Linked DNA regions of Homo sapiens. The protein of the gene in region 1 interacts with the protein of each later gene in a pairwise test. Each region holds a gene or a part of one and is shown in the gene's direction. Other genes may lie near its edges.

Region 1 (7,078 bases):
AGCACGTTTCCCTTAACACAAAACTGACCAGTGAAAATCCTCATTTGCAAAACATGTAAATTAGAACTTGATTATTCAGATCACAAAAGGATTCATCACAGGACTTTTTGAATAGAAAAGACTATTACATGTAAAGTACAGTATTTTATTTCAGGGAGAGATCCATTACATATATGCCAAATTTTTGAAAATCAGTTTCTAGTTAGAAAAAGGAAGGAAATTGGCTTGTGAAATAATTTAACAGGTCAAATTCACAATTGTATCAATCTTGGACAAATGCACCAATAATGTGAAGCAAGGAGTTACCGGTGTATTCCCTGGGGATGGCTGAACTAAAGCATATCCCTTATCCCCAGGAGCTTACGGTCTGCATAGGGAAACAGACAGTTAAATAGACAGAAGCCAGCATCAAGGCAGGCAGCAGAGCAATGATCCTGGAATGGCATGGTCAGTAAATGAGAGGAATTCACTCAGAACTTCTTCAGGATCATTGCCATGTGTATAGATGTAGAAACAAAATAGACATTCGGCAAGTAAGAATCTTTGGGACAATTAGCAGCATATGTTTTATTATTTCATGATAACATTCATCAAAATAGCTTAATGGGATAATTAACTCAGGCATGTGGATTCAATTCTGATCAGCTTTAGCAAAAAATAGTATATTTAGCCAAAATATGAGACACCTATATATTTTCCTGCCAGAAGGAAAATTGCACATATTTCCCAAGTTTTGGGGGAAAAGGGTGTCAGTTTGGACCAGTATTCATAGAAATTAACCATCGAGGCTGGACGCAGTAGCTCACGCCTGTAATCCCAGCACTTTGGGAGGCCAAGGTGGGTGGATCACTGGAAGTCAGGAATTTGAGACCACCCTAGTCAACATGGTGAAACCCCATCTCTACTAAAAATATAAAAATTAGCTGGGTGTGGTGACACAAGTCTGTAACCCCAGCTACTCAGGTGGCTGAGGCAGGAGGATTGCTTGAACTCAGGAGGTGGAGGTTGCAGTGAGCCGAGATCGCACCACTGCACTACAGCCTGGCAACAGAGCAAGACTCTGTCTCAAAATAAAAAAAAGAAAGAAGTTAACCATTGAATGCTGAGCTGAAGACTCTAAATTATCATTCTATAATAGTAAGTGGATAAACCAAAACTTATGATCTAGCCTTTGTTTTATGTTTGTTGGTAGTTTTCTTTCTTTTTGTTTTTCCTTAACAGAGCAGCATAGTTTATCACAGAATGTTAAAACTGGTTCTCAAAAAAATACAATTATCAAAAAAGGAAAGTTTCAAACAACTTTCTAAAAAGGGTATTCTTCATTTTTCTTACATTTTACATTCATTCTATGCAAATTTCTACATCCTCTCTATTAATCTCTGACTGTTACTAGCTTTGCTTGCTGGTGAGAGTATTTTTCACTGTAGCGTAAAATAATACTGCATTTCAAATTTTTAATAGTCATGTTTTAATCACTATAATGCAAAACAAATGTAGATTTTTCTATCATGTACCAAGGTAGGACATATTGAAGGTATTTCTGATTGTTTATATTTTGCAATTTTGAACCAAGTATGACTCTGGATACATAGCCATACTTATAAATATTTTTAAGTAACTTAAAATCATTTTTAAAATATATTAAATAAGACAGGTGGAATATGCTTTACTAACTGTAAAGTGCCGCATGGGTAAAATGTCCAGAGCACACCAATGTGGTTGCCAATTTAAATGCCACCGGAAGACTCAGAGCTCCTTATTGTGTAGTATTTATGTTTGTACAACTCATCAATGAATAATCAACTATGTTTGAGTCTGCCATCTCACTTTGAAAGAGATATGGTACCAACTCACTACATAACTATTTCAGTACTAATTCCTCACTGTTTTTAATTTGGGTCAGAGACTTGGGGATGGAAAGGGGAAGCATGTTTAATGCAAAGCTATGGCCCAAATGTAAACACTGAAATCGTCCTGAACACACTTCAACAGCGAATGTATGACAGCCCAGTGTAAAGCCATTTAGAAATAACAAGATGGACATGTACACATATGTAGGTTAAGTTCAACAGTATATAATGCCCAAAACAGTATATAGTGGGTATGAATTACTTGAACCGAGTTTAGTATCTTTATCCTTTTAGTCATAGTACTGTGTGGTTTTCTCCATATTCTCTTTCTTATTTATTTTTGTCCAATTAGAAAATAAAGCAGGGCAGGGTGGCTGCATCTGTTTACTTTCTGAGCATGGGTGTATGTAAACACACACACGTATCTGTCTATTTTTTCCAGAGGCTTCTATGTACACATCATATAAAAGTCATACTGTTAACATAAATCAACCCCAGAAGAGAAATTCCAGCATACCGTTTTCCCTTGCCTATTGTCTGTGTGTGTGTTTGTATGTCAGTCTGTCTTTTTTTATTCTGGCTTTCTCTCTTATTCAGTATTTATAAGGACCTTTAGGGCAGATGTCTAAAAACAACTGCATAGTCATCAGGAGTTAGGCGGAATGAAATGCCTTTGCTCATCTTCTCTACATGAGTGACCAGAAGAAAAAAAAGAAACACAGAGTATCAGACTTTAGAAACTACATGCAGGTTAAAGGGCACTGACCATCCTGGCTTGTGTTCTGCCTAAAGGACAAGGCTCTCATTTGATAAAGATCATTAGTCACCAAGATATATATTTTAGAGAGTTCCCAGTAGCGAATATTCTGTTGGCAGTCACTGGAGTGTACCAGATGGTTCATTAGCATAGGCTAGACAAGTCAAAGACTTTCAGAATCATTTAGAAAATGTCAAACAGAAACAAGAATCCTGTCACTTTTTATTAGAATTAACTACATCATACCCTGGACACAGATTTCACCTTGGGTCAGAAAAATTAATACAGAATTATATGAATTGTGTAATATACTGGGTTAAGATAGGTCTTTCTCCAGGGACTCATTTGCTGGCAATATATTAAGATCCCTCTACTTTAGGAATCCTCAATCCTTTCCTTTTGTAAGATATGAAAAGAGTTGACCTTGCTCAAAATCCACTGGTGTCTAATTGATTTGAGGTATATGCAGAATTTCAACAAGACATTCTTCTAAAGCTCTTTTGTGATCCTTTTCCCAGGAAGTTTGGTGAGTGGGGTTTACTGAATATTCAGCAGCATGTAAAGTATGTTTATGTCAAAAGGAAAATACATCCATTAATTGAACACATTGCTTTAGTAAACAGGAATTGAAATGCTATTGAAATGTTGCTTTTTTTTTTTTTTTTTTTAATGCAGATGTCAAAAACCTTGAAAACTTCCAGCTGGTAGAAGGTGTCCAGGAACAAGTCAATGCCGCCCTGCTGGACTACACAATGTGTAACTACCCGCAGCAGACAGAGAAATTTGGACAGCTACTTCTTCGACTACCCGAAATCCGGGCCATCAGTATGCAGGCTGAAGAATACCTCTACTACAAGCACCTGAACGGGGATGTGCCCTATAATAACCTTCTCATTGAAATGTTGCATGCCAAAAGAGCATAAGTTACAACCCCTAGGAGCTCTGCTTTCAAAACAAAAAGAGATTGGGGGAGTGGGGAGGGGGAAGAAGAACAGGAAGAAAAAAAGTACTCTGAACTGCTCCAAGTAACGCTAATTAAAAACTTGCTTTAAAGATATTGAATTTAAAAAGGCATAATAATCAAATACTTAATAGCAAATAAATGATGTATCAGGGTATTTGTATTGCAAACTGTGAATCAAAGGCTTCACAGCCCCAGAGGATTCCATATAAAAGACATTGTAATGGAGTGGATTGAACTCACAGATGGATACCAACACGGTCAGAAGAAAAACGGACAGAACGGTTCTTGTATATTTAAACTGATCTCCACTATGAAGAAATTTAGGAACTAATCTTATTAATTAGGCTTATACAGCGGGGGATTTGAGCTTACAGGATTCCTCCATGGTAAAGCTGAACTGAAACAATTCTCAAGAATGCATCAGCTGTACCTACAATAGCCCCTCCCTCTTCCTTTGAAGGCCCCAGCACCTCTGCCCTGTGGTCACCGAATCTGTACTAAGGACCTGTGTTCAGCCACACCCAGTGGTAGCTCCACCAAATCATGAACAGCCTAATTTTGAGTGTCTGTGTCTTAGACCTGCAAACAGCTAATAGGAAATTCTATTAATATGTTAGCTTGCCATTTTAAATATGTTCTGAGGGTTGTTTTGTCTCGTGTTCATGATGTTAAGAAAATGCAGGCAGTATCCCTCATCTTATGTAAGTGTTAATTAATATTAAGGGAAATGACTACAAACTTTCAAAGCAAATGCTCCATAGCTAAAGCAACTTAGACCTTATTTCTGCTACTGTTGCTGAAATGTGGCTTTGGCATTGTTGGATTTCATAAAAAATTTCTGGCAGGAAGTCTTGTTAGTATACATCAGTCTTTTTCATCATCCAAGTTTGTAGTTCATTTAAAAATACAACATTAAACACATTTTGCTAGGATGTCAAATAGTCACAGTTCTAAGTAGTTGGAAACAAAATTGACGCATGTTAATCTATGCAAAGAGAAAGGAAAGGATGAGGTGATGTATTGACTCAAGGTTCATTCTTGCTGCAATTGAACATCCTCAAGAGTTGGGATGGAAATGGTGATTTTTACATGTGTCCTGGAAAGATATTAAAGTAATTCAAATCTTCCCCAAAGGGGAAAGGAAGAGAGTGATACTGACCTTTTTAAGTCATAGACCAAAGTCTGCTGTAGAACAAATATGGGAGGACAAAGAATCGCAAATTCTTCAAATGACTATTATCAGTATTATTAACATGCGATGCCACAGGTATGAAAGTCTTGCCTTATTTCACAATTTTAAAAGGTAGCTGTGCAGATGTGGATCAACATTTGTTTAAAATAAAGTATTAATACTTTAAAGTCAAATAAGATATAGTGTTTACATTCTTTAGGTCCTGAGGGGCAGGGGGATCTGTGATATAACAAAATAGCAAAAGCGGTAATTTCCTTAATGTTATTTTTCTGATTGGTAATTATTTTTAACAGTACTTAATTATTCTATGTCGTGAGACACTAAAATCAAAAACGGGAATCTCATTTAGACTTTAATTTTTTTGAGATTATCGGCGGCACAATCACTTTGTAGAAACTGTAAAAAATAAAAGTATCTCCTAGTCCCTTAATTTTTTCATAAATATTTCTGGCTTTTGAGTAGTGTATTTATATTGTATATCATACTTTCAACTGTAGACAATTATGATGCTAATTTATTGTTTCTTGGTTTCACCTTTGTATAAGATATAGCCAAGACTGAAGAAACCAAATATATGTGTTTACTGTAGCATGTCTTCAAATTAGTGGAACTTAGTTCAGGGACATAGAAGAGTCTTAATGAATTAAAATCATTCACTTGATTAAATGTCTGTAAATCTTCATCATTCCTACTGTAGTTTATTTAATATCTATTGTAAATTATGTGACTTGTAGCTTCCTCTGGTTTTCAAGTAAACTCAACAAGGTGGAGTCTTACCTGGTTTTCCTTTCCAAGCATTGTAAATTGTATACCAAAGATATTAGTTATTACTTCTGTGTGTACAAAGAGGATTATTTTATTATGTTTATTAATCACCTCTAATACTCATCCACATGAAGGGTACACATTAGGTAAGCTGGGCGTTGACTCATGCGCAGTCTCAGTCACCCGTGTTATCTTCGTGGCTCAAAGGACAATGCAAAATCGCCGATCAGAGCTCATACCCAAAGCATTACAGAGAACAGCAGCATCATTGCCCTCCCCAGCTGAAAAACAAGTTGGCTAGAAGATACATGGAGAGGAATGGTGTGGTCAACAGTTAATGAAACGGTTCTATCATGCATGTGTAATGTGGATGGAGACAATTATAAGATTTGACTATAACTATTTGGAGGGTCTTTAACATTGCCAAAAAAACAAATATGTTGATTTTTATTTTATTTTATTTTTTATTTTAAGAGGCGGGATCTTGATCTCACATGTTGCCCAGGCTGGCCTTGAACTCCTGGGCTCAAGCATTCCTCCTGCCTCAGCCTCCCCCATAGCTGGGACTAGGGGTGCATGCCAGCATACCTGGCTACGTTGACTCTTAAAATCTATGTTCTCTTATTTTAAAGATACAGTGCTCCCCACTGAAAATTAAACCTAAAAAATGTCACATATTGGTATGTTGTTAACCTGGTAGATTAAATCATGAGAATGATTAGAAAGACGGGCAACACAGCGGGTTACATCCACACTGCTGATCACACCAACGACAGGAGCTGATAAGCAAGAAAGCGTCACAGCCAGCGTCTGTTCACCCAAGGTTGACAAGTGAAGTTTCTCTAATGTTGATTGTTAGCCGATTTGTAACCTGGCATTTACTTAGCAACTGCCTTATCAATTACAGGATTTGCCGGTAAAAGCAGACTCAAATATAAAGGTTTTTGGCTTAACTTGGTTTATTATAGTTGCTCTATGTTTGTAAACAGACAATCTCTAATGTCTGATTATTTGTATCACAGATCTGCAGCTGCCTTGGACTTGAATCCATGCAATGTTTAGAGTGTGAAGTCAGTTACTTGTTGATGTTTTCTTACTGTATCAATGAAATACATATTGTCATGTCAGTTCTTGCCAGGAACTTCTCAACAAAATGGAATTTTTTTTTTCAGTATTTCAATAAATATTGATATGCCCAGCCTGATAATTTTTAAAAGTTTTTATGTTGTCCTCATTCTATCGGATACTAAAGCTTCTAAATAAGAGACTTGACTAGGAGTGAAATCAAAAGAATCCCACAGGAATAGATACTTTTCCCTTTAGATAACTTCTAGAGTGGTTGGCTGTCCTTCCATGGATACCTGAAGCATTAAATTCAATCTGAGCATCATCTCTACATGTGAAACAAAGTATTTTATATCATTTACTGTTATAATCAATAAGCAGAAAAATCTTAATAGCATCTCACTTTTTTGTAGAGCTTATGTTGTCCTGATAACTTTCCCAAGTGCTTTCTTAATTCACTTGGTCCTCAGAACAGATCCAGGAGG
Region 2 (7,592 bases), on another chromosome or scaffold:
AAAAAGCAAAATAGAAGTTTGATTAAGTGTTCCTCTTTTCACACAGGTGTCCCTCACACCTTAGACATTACAGATCTAAGCAATAGGCTGGGTGAGGTGGCTCATGCCTGTAATCCCAGCACTTTGGGAGGCCAAAGTGGTTGGATCACTTGAACTCAGGAGTTCGAGACCAGCTTGGGCAACATGGCAAAACCCTGTCTCTATCAAACACGCACACACACAAATTAGCAGACATGGTGGCATGCGCCAGCTAGGGAGGATGAGGTGTGAGAATCTCCTGAACGCCAGAGGTGGAGGCTGCAGTGAGTTGTTATCGCACCACTGCACTCCAGCCTGGGTGACAGAGTGAAGCCCTGTCTCAAAAAAGAAAAAGAAAAAAAAATCTAAGTAATAATAGGTAGAAAAAATGGTAATAAAGTCTATATAAAGAGGAAAAAAGACATTCAGGGTAGGAGGAAAGAAAATGACATTTCATACAGAGAGAGGGAGAGAAAGAGGACAGAGGTAAAATACACGAGAGACAAAGGTAGATAGAAGAGAGAGAAGTGGAATTTGGAGTTCTGCTTAGTGTCAATGCGGGTAAGCTGCTTATTTCATAAATGGGCATTACCTCTTTTTTCTGCTATTTAATACCTAGTTTACTTTCCAATCTTTTATTTTTCTTCTAACCTCCTCTAAAGATTAGCTTAACAAAAATAAAATCAAGATGTACACTGGAGCAAAAAGCTTCAAGAACTCTGAGAATTCTCCTAAAATTTCCTTTACCCTTGGAATATCTTGTTACCTCCAAGTTTGGCCTTTTGGGCCCAAGCAAAAGGATCTGATTTTTTTTTTTTTTTTTTTTTTCCCTGAGATGAAGTCTTGCTCTGTCGCCCAGGCTAGAGTGCAGTGGCGTGATCTCGGCTCACTGCAACCTCTACCTCCCAGGTTCAAGTGATTCTTCTGCCTCAGCCTCCCAAGTAGCTGGGACTACAGGCATGCACCACCACAACTGGCTAATTTTTGTATTTTTAGTAGAGACAGGGTTTCATCATGTTGGCCAGGCTGGTCTCCAACTCCTGACCTCAAGTGATCCATCCACCTTGCCATCCGTGAGCCACTGCACCCAGCCTGATCTTTTTCCTTTATATCATATAGCACAGCTAACACTATATGTTTAAACCTGTAACGCTTAGGTTTAAACATTAAAATTAGACTTTACTAAAGACTAAGGGTTTACAAAGACTACCCACACAGAGTAACATTAAATCCAATCATCTGGCTTATAAAACCTCGACCTCTCTCTTCTAAGTGCCCCATTTCAGCTCCCATTCTGTTTCTTAGTGGTGGGCACCATTTTAGCAATCTCAGCACCCATCACCCAGGTGGTCACAGCTGCAAGGTTACTTTTCTTACAGTACAGAACCCAGGGCAAACATGAAGCCTACACTTAAGGCCTCAAAATGATAAGTTATACACATAATTACTCCAACAATCACCCAAGAAATACACATAGACAATAATAGGTATCTTTGACCAAGGGCCCCACAGAGCTGGCTACCAATGACCAGCTCCCTGAAGGGTAAATTATTCTCTAGGACAGTATGATATTATCCCCAGATAAAGTCAAGCCTAAAATCATGGGATATAGTGAAAAGAACACTGGACTAGGCATCAGGAGTTCGAGTTATTCCTACCTCATTTTGTGAACCCCCCCCCCCAAGCAAGTTACTATATATTTAAATTTATTTACACCATACGTTAAATAGGACCTCTCTATATCAACCTTAAAGTGCTAGAGTAAGAATAAAATGAGATGACAGATGGAAAGTGCTTTGAAAAAGTAGATTCTTTTACAGCTCTGGATGTCCATGATTCCCATCCATCCAATGAACATGAGCACTTACTATGCATTACATGTTGCAGAAACAAAAATGAGTAAAATTCAGCAATTGGAATGAAATGGAGTTTTTTTGGTTTCTTTTTTGTTTTTTGAGATGGAGTATTGCTCTGTTGCCCAGGCTGGAGTGCAGTGGCATGATCTCGGCTCACTGCAACCTCTACCTCCCAGGTTTAAACGATCCTCCTGCCTCAGCCCCCCTAGTAGCTGGGATTACAGGCACATTAGCCTGTATGCCCAGCTAATTTTTATATTTTTAGTAGAGACAGGGTTTCGCCATGTTGGCCAGGCTGGTCTCAAACTCCTGACCTTAGGTAATCCAGCCGCCTCGGCCTCCCAAAGTGCTAGGATTACAGGTGTGAGCCACCACGCCTGGCCTGAAATGTAGTTTTAAAAGCTTATAAGGTTGACTGGGTTTGGTGGCTCACTCCTGTAATCCCATCACTTTGGGAGGCTGAGACAGGCAGATGGCTTGAGCTCAGGAGTTTGAGACCGGCCTGGGCAACATGGTGAAACCCTGTCTCCACTAAAAACACAAAAAATTAGCCAGGAGTGGTGGTGTGTGCCTGTGGTCCCAGCTACTCAGGGGCGTGGGGGGCTGGGGTTGGAGGATCTCTTGAGCCTGGGAGGCGGCTGTTGCTGTAATCCGAGATCATGCCATTGCACTCCAATCTGAGTGTCAGAAAGAAACCCCGTCTAAAAAAAAAAAAAAGTTTATAAAGTGATTGGGAAGCATTTTTCTGGATATGCAATCTGTCCAACTTTGCCATCAATCATAAAACGTTTCATTGCTTACTAATTGCTTACTACTCCAAAGCTGAAAACTATTGTAGAGGCGGTGAGGATACAGAAGTGTAAGATTACTGTGGTCTTCTAATAATGTAGAATCTAGTGTGGCAGGGCTGGACGCGGTGGCTCACGCCTGTAATCCCAGCACTTTGGAAGGCCGAGGCAGGCGGATCACGAGGTCAGGAGATCAAGACCATCCTGGCCAACAAGGTGAAACCCCGTCTCTACTAAAAAATACAGAAATTAGCTGGGCGTGGCGGGTGCCTGTAATCCCAGCTACTAGGGAGGCTGAGGCAGGAGAATCTCTTGAACCAGGGAGACGGAGGTTGCAGTAAGCCGAGATGGCGCCACTGCACTGCAGCCTGGCCACAGAGTGACACGCCGTCTCAAAAAAAAAAAAAAAAAAATTAAAACTTTTGTCTTGCAGTACCTGGACTGGAGATCAAATTCTGATGTTAACTTACCGTTTGATCTTTGACAAGTCCTTTAGCCTTTCTAAGCCTGTTTCCCCAGCTGTAAAATGGGAATAAAATACAGTACTGTCCCTCCAAAAAGAAGCTGAGGCAAAATCAGGCCAAGCTTGAGGACTGCAACCCAGGACCATAGATTCAAGCTGCCCTGAATATACACTCGGATTAGCAAGTTACAAGTAGGTTTTTAAAGGAAAAGAGGCAGCTCCTAAATTGTTTACCAATTTACATTAAAATATCGTGGGCTCTTGACTAGCTATACATTGTTCTTTGTATCTTAAATTTCAGAAACTTAAAGATAATGCGTAGGCAGCTAATCAGGAACAAAATGCCTTTAAACAATTGCCCCAGGCATTAGTAGTGAAAGGAAGAGAATGACAGCCTGCCTACTTCGCAGAGCTGAGGTCTGATCTATTTTTCTTAGTACCTATTCGTAAGGGTTGTTGTGAGGTTAAAGTGAGACAATCTATGTAAAGAACAGTTCCTGGAACATAAATGCTTGATAAATTATGGCCACAATTCTTTTTTGTGGTTGAGCAGTGCGGGGAGATCGCGAAAAATTTCTATTTACGCGCAGCTAACAAAATACTCTATGTTGCAGAGCTGTTTCACTTTCTCCCTTTGAGACGCAAGCCGGCTTGCCGCCTCCTCAAGTAACCAGGCACAATGTTCTGATCCCAAAGTCTCACAATCCTTCAAGTATGAAATCAGTAAAAACTCCAACTTCCATTTATGGATTTACGGAGAACTTTTTATACATCGAGGGGCTAATTCAATCAGTAAGTCACTTTGATTTTTACTCTGATCACCGAGACTAATAAGCAGCGATGCCGAACCAAGTAAATGAAAGAATCGTGAGCCATACTTCAGTAGATAAAATTTAAATGTAGACTGATTTTCTTCACGATTGCTAGGGAAGAAATCCTTACAGCGTACTTAGAAATCTTTGTTTTAAAATGATAACGCTGTTATGTTGGGCTGAAAATAAAACGGATACTTCCCCAAGGTCAGCAGCGGAGGAGGCAACCGTGGCCTTGCCAAAGTCATCCCCTCTTCCCAGCCCCCGTTCTTCCTGCCGCCCTCCCCCTGCCCCCTCCCTTCCCCACCCCCATCAACAAACTCCGCCGGGACATTTCAGTACCACCACTCCCTAGCCCGGCGAAGCGCAGGGGCGTGCTGGGGAGGAGTAAAGAGGGTGGGGCGGAAACCCAATTTCATTGTTCGCGGGACCGATTCTTCCCAAAAGAGCTCGCTGGCAGCGCCTGCGCAGTGCGCCCTCTTTGTGCCAGGCTGCAGCAAGCTGGTTGTTTGTGTGTGTCTACCCGAAGCTGCGGAGGCGGAGCGAGGGGGCGTGGCCTGCCTTGTCGCACTCTAATTGGGCTTTCGCAGGAAAGTGGGCGGGCGCGGGGCGGAGCTTCCGATAACAACACTCGGAGCTGGGGCTGTGGCTATTTGTTGCTGCGCCGCCACCGCCCGAGTCATGTTCCGCGATCTTCTCAGGCTCTCCTAGCAGCATCCATCGCCGCCACCCTATCTTCACTGGCTTCATTCACCTTCTCCTTCTCTCTTCGTTGCTGAGCGACAAGCTTCCTAGCGCTATGACTGTCGTCTCCGTCCCGCAGCGGGAGCCGCTCGTCCTGGGTGGCCGCCTTGCGCCGCTTGGCTTTTCCTCCCGAGGTTACTTTGGGGCCCTCCCGATGGTGACCACGGCTCCGCCTCCTTTACCCCGGATCCCGGACCCCCGGGCACTGCCCCCGACCCTCTTCCTCCCTCATTTCCTAGGGGGAGATGGCCCGTGTCTGACCCCCCAGCCTCGCGCTCCAGCAGCTCTGCCCAACCGCAGCCTCGCCGTGGCGGGAGGCACTCCTCGGGCAGCGCCGAAGAAGCGGCGAAAGAAGAAGGTGCGGGCCAGCCCCGCAGGGCAGCTGCCCAGCCGCTTCCACCAGTACCAGCAGCACCGGCCGAGTCTGGAGGGCGGCCGGAGCCCCGCGACCGGCCCGAGCGGAGCGCAGGAGGTCCCGGGCCCGGCCGCCGCCTTGGCCCCGAGTCCTGCAGCCGCAGCCGGCACGGAGGGAGCCAGCCCCGACCTTGCCCCGCTGCGGCCCGCGGCTCCCGGCCAAACCCCCCTCAGGAAAGAGGTGAGGCCGCCAGGGGGCCGTTGGGGAGTCGGGCCCTTAGACGGTCGCGGCCGAGCTCTGGGGCTGCAGACCCTGCACCCGGGGGGTCGGGCGGGTGGGGGCGGGGTGGGGGGGGCGGCTGTTTACTCGGGAGGGAAGTTTCCGTGACGCCCGCTCCATTCTTGCTTTGGGGGAAGAAGGGGGAAGGGGAGGCATGCGCTGGCGCTTCTGATTGGCTCCCAGGAGTCGGCCAATGAGAAGCGCCGCTGCGCCCCAGCAACAGCCCCGATTTAGAAGGCTGGCGGCGTTCCAGGGGGTTTCGGCGTTCCGGGCGCGCGGCGGGGTGGGGGCAGGGACAGGGCCCGCGGGAGGGCTGACGTCAGCGCGCGCTACGTGCCCGGCGCTCCGGCGCCCATGAAGGAGGCGAGGCCGGGTGGGGGCAGCTGGGGAAGGACTGGGCCCGGCTTTCGGCCTCCCGGCTATCGGGAGCCCCAGTCCTAGTCGGTGAAACGCGGAGACGGCCTCTAACGTCCCGCCGTAGGGGGTGGAGTGGGCTCCGAGCGGCTGGGTTTCGTTTGGTTGGAGTTGTGCCAAAATGTGAGGTGCCCGGTGTGGGACGCGCAGTCCAGTTGGGGCTCTGCCCGCCTCGGGCCTGACCTACTTAGTGGTTCCAAGTTAAGAGTTGGCAGGAGCCGCACAAAACTGATTTTATTACTTTTGCCACTGTGGTACTTCGTGTTAGTGTGTCCAGAGTAAGTTTTCAGAAGAGTTAGCAATTGAATTGACTTAGCCCGTCTGATTGCAGTGCTATTGCATTAGGATAAAATGGATAGAAGTTTAAATAGGATTAAGTCTACGAAATGATTTCAAAGTCTTGTCAGAATAACGTTTTATGGACTTAAGTTCAATGACTTAATCTTCGTAATAATGAAATGAAAAAGTTCCCGTTATTTAGTGAAGAATGTTGCATTGAATTAGAGATTTGCGGTTTATCTGTGCCCTTGGGAAAAAATTTGCCCACCTTGTTTCTTTAAATTATCGTCTCAATGTCTCCCTTTTAAAATTCCACGACTTTTGAAATATCCGTGATTACCTAAAAGCTTTTGTGCTTGTTTCCTGGCCTGTTTTCTAGAACAGGTACTAACTAGGGAGCTCTGGCAGTGAACCTTATTGACGTGGAAAGTTGTGGTCCTCTTTCGTGTCGTGTCTTGCTTACTACCGCGTTACAAGTGTTGGTAGTGCAGTGATCTAGTGGATTACCTTACGCTTTTCCATCCTTTCAAGACTTCCTATAAGGCCCACTTAAGTTGGGAAAGATTAAGGTGAGTGAAGCAGCGTTCTTGAAGCAGTTACTAAACCAGAAAGGAGGTACACAGCAAAGATTGTTTCTGGCACTCGTATTTGGAAGAGAGCTCATTAGTCTTCCTTACAGTTGTAGAAAGGTGGACTTGGGTTATTTCAGACTTTTTTTAGTTTGACATTTTAGAACTGGTTCACGTTGCATACTGGTAACTAGCAGTGGTGATTAACTGCATTTTTAGTGGCGAACAAGAGTGAACTTAAAAGTCAAGGGAAATTTAAGTTTTTTGTTGTTTTTTTTTTCTTGAGACAGAGTCTGCCTCTATCGCACTCCAGGCTGGAATGCAGTGGCACGATCGATCTCTGCTCACTGCATCCTCCCCTTCCCAGGCTGAAGGGATCCCGCCTCAGCCAGCCTCCCGAGGCGCGTGTTACCACGCCGGGCTGATTTTTATATTTGTAGTAGACATGGGGTTTCGCTATGTTGCCCAGGCTGGTCTCGAACTCCTTGAGCTTGAGCGATCTGCTTGCCTTGACCTCCCAAAGTGCTGGGATTACAGGCGTGAGCCACCATGCCCAATTAAAGTTTTTGTAATTTTCAGCTTTTATTTTAGATCAAGGAGGTACTTGTGCAGGTTTGCTACATGGGTATATTTCGTGATGCTGAGGTTTGGAGTATGAATGATCCCATTCCAGGTAGTGAGCATAGTACCCAGTAGGTCCCCATCTCTCTCTCAACCCCCCTTCTAGTAGTGCCTAGTGTCTGTTGTTGTTCCCCACTATATCCATGTTGTACCCAGTGTTTAGCTCCCAAATTCACTTGTAAGTGAGAACTTGCGATATTTGGTTTTCTGTTTCTGCATTAATTCGTCTAGGGTAATGGCCCCCAGCTACATACGTGTTGTCACAAAGAACATAATTTTGTTCTTTTCTATGGCTGTGGGCAAACTTAAACACAACAAAACTAGATATGTGATATGAGGTTCATAACTGATTTTTATCTAGAAACTATATTTACTTTTGTGTTCTTGTCTTTGT

Evidence for each region. Proteins that work in one complex are often made in the same cells at the same time.
Region 2: the proteins of NR5A2 (region 1) and PNRC1 interact in a two-hybrid assay, tested with the Homo sapiens proteins (one study listed by BioGRID).

Annotation. Positions count from the first base shown.
Region 1 is NC_000001.11:200,170,681-200,177,758, forward strand, and holds the end of NR5A2 (nuclear receptor subfamily 5 group A member 2), read left to right. Parts: intron 1-3,282; coding exon 3,283-3,530; 3' UTR 3,531-6,735; downstream 6,736-7,078. UniProt on the Homo sapiens protein: Orphan nuclear receptor that binds DNA as a monomer to the 5'-TCAAGGCCA-3' sequence and controls expression of target genes: regulates key biological processes, such as early embryonic development, cholesterol and bile acid synthesis pathways, as well as liver and pancreas morphogenesis.
Region 2 is NC_000006.12:89,076,159-89,083,750, forward strand, and holds the start of PNRC1 (proline-rich nuclear receptor coactivator 1), read left to right. Parts: upstream 1-4,592; 5' UTR 4,593-4,736; coding exon 4,737-5,276; intron 5,277-6,392; coding exon of another isoform or gene 6,393-6,419; exon of another isoform or gene 6,420-6,577; intron 6,578-7,592. UniProt on the Homo sapiens protein: Nuclear receptor coactivator. May play a role in signal transduction.